2 separate regions of the Homo sapiens genome follow, and region 1 is linked to region 2. Evidence: fine-mapped expression QTL. A gene starts in region 2. The other region holds a variant in brackets. All regions are shown on one strand. Distances are from middle to middle.

Evidence for each region. PIP is the estimated chance that this variant, and not a neighbour inherited with it, causes the effect. A credible set is the group of variants that fine-mapping cannot tell apart.
Region 1: its variant is the best candidate, but not a certain one, in a credible set for the expression of TMEM132C in whole blood (TOPMed, PIP 0.83).

Annotation. Positions count from the first base shown.
Region 1 is chr12:128,748,104-128,751,008 of GRCh38, reverse strand. No RefSeq gene overlaps it. Among named protein-coding and RNA genes, the nearest start is that of SLC15A4, 74 kb to the left of the region's middle. The variant T/C (reference allele first, on the strand shown) is at 1,503.
Region 2 is chr12:128,265,870-128,268,774 of GRCh38, reverse strand. TMEM132C (transmembrane protein 132C) reads right to left here and starts at 1,605. Exons shown (of 9, transcript NM_001136103.3): 1 at 1,288-1,605. The coding sequence starts at 1,372. It overlaps LOC107987176 (a long non-coding RNA gene), which reads left to right and starts at 1,743. Exons shown (of 2, transcript XR_001749176.1): 1 at 1,743-2,204. RefSeq lists enhancers at 564-1,402, 1,938-2,459.

The DNA of each region.
Region 1 (2,905 bases), 480 kb before region 2:
GTGCGTGAGCATCCCAATTTCTCCAGATTCTCACCAACACTTGCTGGGATCTTTTAATTAATTTATTAATTATAGAGATGGTCTTACCATCTTGCCCAGGCTGGTCTCAAACTCCTGGGCTCAAGCGATCCTCTTGCCTTGGCATCCAAAAGTGCTGGGATTACAGGTGAGAGCCACCCCGCTGATATGTCTTTTCAAATAAAGTCATATTAGTGGGTATAACTTTCTTTTAAATTTATCGACTTATCATGGAAGTATTAATGGATCAGTATATATCCATATATACTCACATAGTCACCAGCTGCTTCCTAATCCATTATATGAATGTAGCATTCTGTCTTTATCCCTTTGGCTAAGCATTTACATCAGTCATTTCCCATTTTTCAGCATCACAAACAAGGTGACAATGAATTCCTAGACATCTACAGTTTTCTCAACCAGTGTTCCCAAGAGAATTACACTCTCTTGCCCTGAGCCATCCATTGTATGTAAGGAATGAACTTTTCTCCCAGGGGTCTAGAAAGGTGTTAGTTATGTAACCACCCTCGAGAGAATTGATAAAATAGTCTCTCAAGCCACTTTCTATGTTCCGTGATTCACGTGAGCACCCCTGGTTGGGAAGACTACATGTGTTCAAATACCATTTCATATTGTTAGAGTAGAATTGCGAGCTGAGGTTTTCCTTTGACATTTGGGGCTATTTCTAAATTGCCCTCCAAACTGGTCACATCCATTCACAGGACCACAGTGTCCAGCATATGCCTGGAATATTATCATGTTTTACATTTTAATTTTTTATATTTATATAAGTGGAGATGGTGTCTCACTATGTTGCCCAGGCTGGTCTTGAACTCCTCGCCTCAAGACATCTTCCTGCTTCAGCCTCCTAATGTGCTGGGATTACAGGCATGAACCACCACGCCTGGCCATGTTTTAATCTTTGGTAACCCTAGAAGCCCCAAATTATTTGTCATAATTTTTTCCCTCCCATCCTTAGCGCAATTGAAAATCTTGTCAAATGTTTAACAGCCACTAGAATTTCTGTATTTAAGAATTTGTGTTAGAATTGAACATAATTACTCTTTGGGGAAACATGCATTTCCAATACCTGGGTGTACTTCAACATTTAATTCAAGACTTTCCTGACAACTGTTGGGGGCTAATTTTGTCCACCTGGTAAAATACGGTACCAAAATGTGTCAGTAGACAGCAGGCAGGTCTCAATGGACTTTATTTGACAGCTTTAAATTTATGTGACTCCTGATACATTTTTGACTTTAAGGGATTATATTTTAAAAAGTTTTGCTGATAATTGATCCTCTCAACTTTCTTTTTGTATTCACATAATTCCAATTCATGTTACTTACAACCCAAACTCTAGCACTCTTAAAATAACCAGAGAGTTGTGGAGCTTGATGGAAACATACACCCACTGGACTCCAGAACTTTCCATCATTTCATCCCAGGCAGTCCTGCATCCTCCTACCTAATTACTGAAAATA[T/C]GGTCAAAAGCCAAACAGTAGACTTATGTGTCAGTAACCTGGGACCTGGGGAATGTGTGTTCTCGGTAAAAAATCATCACATGACATTCTAGGATCTGTAATTACAGCTCACCTTCCAGGCACCGTCTTTATGATGTATTTGCAGCAACTATTCACATACCTGAAAACAGTCACCTGTCCTCACCCCGATCTTATTAAAAACATGTGTCTCATAGCCATATAGTAACCATATTTTGCATTTTTAAAAACCATTTTCTCTATTTCATAAAGCAAAGGCAAAATGTACTCCAGAAATATCAAATAATTGCTTTCACTGCATGGCTCCAAATAAAGAACTTTTTTTTTTCTTTCACTTCCATCCTCTTCCATCTACAGAGAGTTCTATTTTTTCCAGGCGAGTTCCCAGTTGGCTTGGAGGAAAGGCTGGAGAGAAACATGGGAGGGCGGAGGGGTTCAGGGGAGAGGGCTGTGGTGGAGAGAGACTGATTTTAATCATGTTGAGGTCCCAGATGTGCCTACAAAGTGGAAGATCCAGCAGTGGAGAGGAGCAGAGAGCCCCAACTGAGCCTGGAGGAACTGGGTCCCCCTCACCTGGGTCTGTGCCTCTGTTTCCCTCCAGAGCAAGGCAAGGGCATCTTCCAGAATGATGCCACTGTCCTGCCCACTTCACAGGCCCTGCACGGCTTGCACTTTCTAGTTTTTGTTTTTGTTCTGTTTTGTTTTTTGTTGAGACAGAGTCTCACTCTGTCCCCCAGGCTGGAGTGCAGTGGCATGATCTCGGCTCACTGCAACCTCCGCCTCCCGGGTTCAAGCGATTCTTCTGCCTCAGCCTGCCGAGTAGCTGGGACTACAGGCGCCCGCCACCATGCCCAGCTAATTTTTGTAATTTTAGTAGAGATGGAGTTTCACCGTATTGGCCCGACTGGTCTCAAACTCCTGAGCTCATGATCTGCCCGCCTCGGCCTCCCAAAGTGCTGGGATTACAGGCGTGAGCCACCACACCCAGCCTGTGCTTTCTAGTTTTTATACATTATCTTTCGAATAGCCTTTTTACATTTAGGGGATGTCTTAGTTTCCCATTGCTGATGTAACAGATACCACCAACTGAAGTGGCTGAAGATGACACACACTTATCATTTCACAGTTCTGCAGGTCAGGAGTCAGAATGCATCTCAAGGGGCTGCTCATCCTCAAGGTGTCTGTGGGGCTGCGTTTCTTCAGGAGGCTCTGGGCAGGAGCTCTTTTCTTGTCTTTTCCAGCTTTGAGAGGCTGCCGGCGTTCCTGGGCTCATGGTCCCTTCTGCGTCCTGAAACCAGCTAAGTGTCCTCTCTCTGTGTCCTCCTACGGGAGTCTTACCTTCCTCTGATTGATGCATGTGCTTCCCTTTATTGCAAGGACCCCTG
Region 2 (2,905 bases):
AGTAGATTTTTCTGGATTTTCAGGCGGTGCAGAATGACTTTTGAAAAGCAAACGCTACTTTTAAACCTCCATTGACAACTTGTCTCTCTGAACGCATTTCTAGCTCAGCCTCAGAGCATTAGGCGGGAGAAGGGTGGCTTTGAGTGTTCTCTGCTCAGAGCCTGGGGCCGATACTGGACCCGCGGCGCCGCGCGAAGGCTCAGGGCACCCATGTGCGCACCTCCGTTTAACCAAATGAACCCGAGACCTTCGCCAGGGCGCGGGGAGCAGGAAAGCGACGCTCTCCTTTTTCTACGCCCTGGGCGCGCCCCGGGACTCGGGCAGCTGCTGCCCTGGCAGAGCCTAGGCCTTGCTCCCCGCCTGCCCCGCGGCTCCTGGGGCTGGAGACCGCCTCTCCCCGCCCTTCCCGCCGCCGCATCCGCGCGGCCACTCGGCCGCACACGCACATAATAAAAAAGGTCGGAAAAACCACACGGCTACCTTTCGTGAGCCCTGCGGGCGCCATACGTTAACTCCTTTAAATTCCTCCAACCCAAAGCAGGGCCGTCACTCCCATTGTAGAGAAGAGGACACTGAGGTGAAGGAGCCCCGGACAGGACCGCTGGTGAGGTAGTTCCCGTCGCGAGGGACGCACCCACCTCCCCATCCGCGCTCCCCCACCGCAAAGGACTCATTTGAGAGAACCCGCAGAGAGCCCCTGGTTTCTGCCAAGCTGGGGTCCCTGGTGAGCTGCGCGATGAGTGAGCGTTCCTCTAGGGCCCGCACAGAGACCCTAGCGGTTGCGGAAAGGGGATGCAAAGAACCGGGCCTTCCCTCCTGGAGCACCAGCCCCACAGTGCCGAAGCTGTGGATGGGGAGCTGTGGACAGGGAGCACACAGCCGGGAGGAAGGAGCGCACAGAGCGGAGCACCTCTCCTGGATGCCAGTTCCACAGGGTGACTGTGCTGGGGCTGGGGCAGGTCCGCACGGAACTCAGGGATGGGGAACAAACACCGTGTCCCTCAGCCACGCCCCCTCCTCATCCGCGGGGCAGCTCTGGGTCTGGGGGGTCCGGGGTGGGAGATTCGGGACTCGGGACCAGCCTAACTTGCCCGGATCCCGGCGCCCAGCTGGGAGCGCCCTTCTGGATTAGGGGCGGCTCGGCACCCGCAGAGGCGCTGTTGATGGGATCCGAGCCCCCGCCGAGGCCCCCGCCGCACCCCTCGCTTCGGCTGCCCTCACCCCGAGCTCCCCCGGAACCGGGAAGTTCGCATGCGTCGGCGCGCCAGGCACCCGCCCCGGCCTTACCTTTGCCCAGCAGCGCGCCCAGCAGCAGGCTCAGCGCCCCGCACAGCGGCGCCGCCGGCCCGGGGGCCGCACCCTCGGAGCGCATCCTGCGTCCCGGCCGCTCACGCAGCCCGCCGCCAGCCCGAAGCGCAGCGCCCGCCCGCGGCCCCCGCCGGCCGCCCCATGCCCGGGGCCACTCCCGCAGCCCGGTCGGCCGGGCCCGCTGCGTCTCTGCTGTCCGAGGCCCGCCCCTGCCGGGTCCACGCCGCCGCAGCTCCGGCTCTGGCTCTGGCGGCTCCGGCTCCGCCGCTGCTCGCGCTCCGGCCGGGACAACTTTTCTCCCGCAGCCTCCGCAGCCTCCGCAGCCGCCGGCCCGCCCCGCCCCCGGCCCCGCCCCCGCCCCCGCCCGGGCCCCGCCCCCGCCGAGCCCCGCGACCGCGGACAGATTGAGGGTGCGGTAGGAGAGAGTTCGCCTGCCCGCCGGGAGGGGCGGCAGATGGAGAACCCCCCCGCCCGGGCTAGGGAGGGTGTGCCCGGGAAAGAAGACCGGGAGAGGAGGGGGCGTCTCCCCAGGCGGCTGGGACGGCTCCTCCGGGGGTCCGCGCCTTTCCAGAGAAACTCAGCGTTCGCAGACTCCTGCCCGGGTGCCCAACGGACAGCGGCCCGTGGCCCGGAGGGTCCTGCCCAGGGACCCGACGCTCAAGGCGGAGCTGGACTCCTTCTCCCCACCCTCCCGTGGTCACTGCGGGACCTGGTGGTCGTCACGCCCCATTCCTCAACTTCAGGTGGCCGCTGCTTTAGCCTGGAGGGCTGGGGACATCTGGAATGCAAAGTCCCGCGCAGCTGCTGCGGGGAGAGCTCCTAACTGGATCACTGAGCGCGGAAAAGCAGCGCGCAGCGGAGCGTGAAGGCGGGGTGCGGGCTCAAGACAGATGCGGGTGTGCACCTGTGCGTGTGCGGAGGGGGCGAGGCACGAGATCACAGCGGTGTCTCTGGGAAGGGGACGAGAACGCAGAGGGGAAGAAAGGATCATTTTTCACTGCATGTCTGTGGGGCTTCCACTCCCCAATCATCTCCCCGCCGCCCATAGCATGTGTTTTATTATCTTTTCAGTGGGTGGAGAATAGCCCCTCTCTAGACTTGCTCCTGCAATAGGCAATTTCTCTGCAGACTCAGACAAGGAAGATCCGCCCTCCCCCCCCCCCCCCCGACTTCGTTCTCTCTATCTTTTCCCTCTGATTTCTCCAGGGCTGGCCTCCCTCATGGTGGTGATCCCAGGTGATCTCAGCGGCTTCCCTGTGCGGTTCCTGATGCTCATGCTCTGCTCTTTCTGCCACGCGTGGTCTGAGCAGTTTGAGGGCGGGACCCCGACTCCCCCCTTGTGACTGGGAATGAAGGGCCATGGGTTCGGAGGTCTCTGGACGTCCCCTCCTGTCCTGAGCTCCTCACCACGGGCTCAGCATCCCCTCTCACCGTGGGCTGGCTCGGTCCAACATCAAAAGGAAGCCTGAGGGGTCTTTTCTCACCATCAGTGCAGGAAAGAATTTCAAAAGAAAAAAAGAAGTCCTTGATTGAAAGAAAAGAAATGTAAACGAATGATCCCCAGCAACTGCAACCCCAAGTCTTATCTCCCAACTCA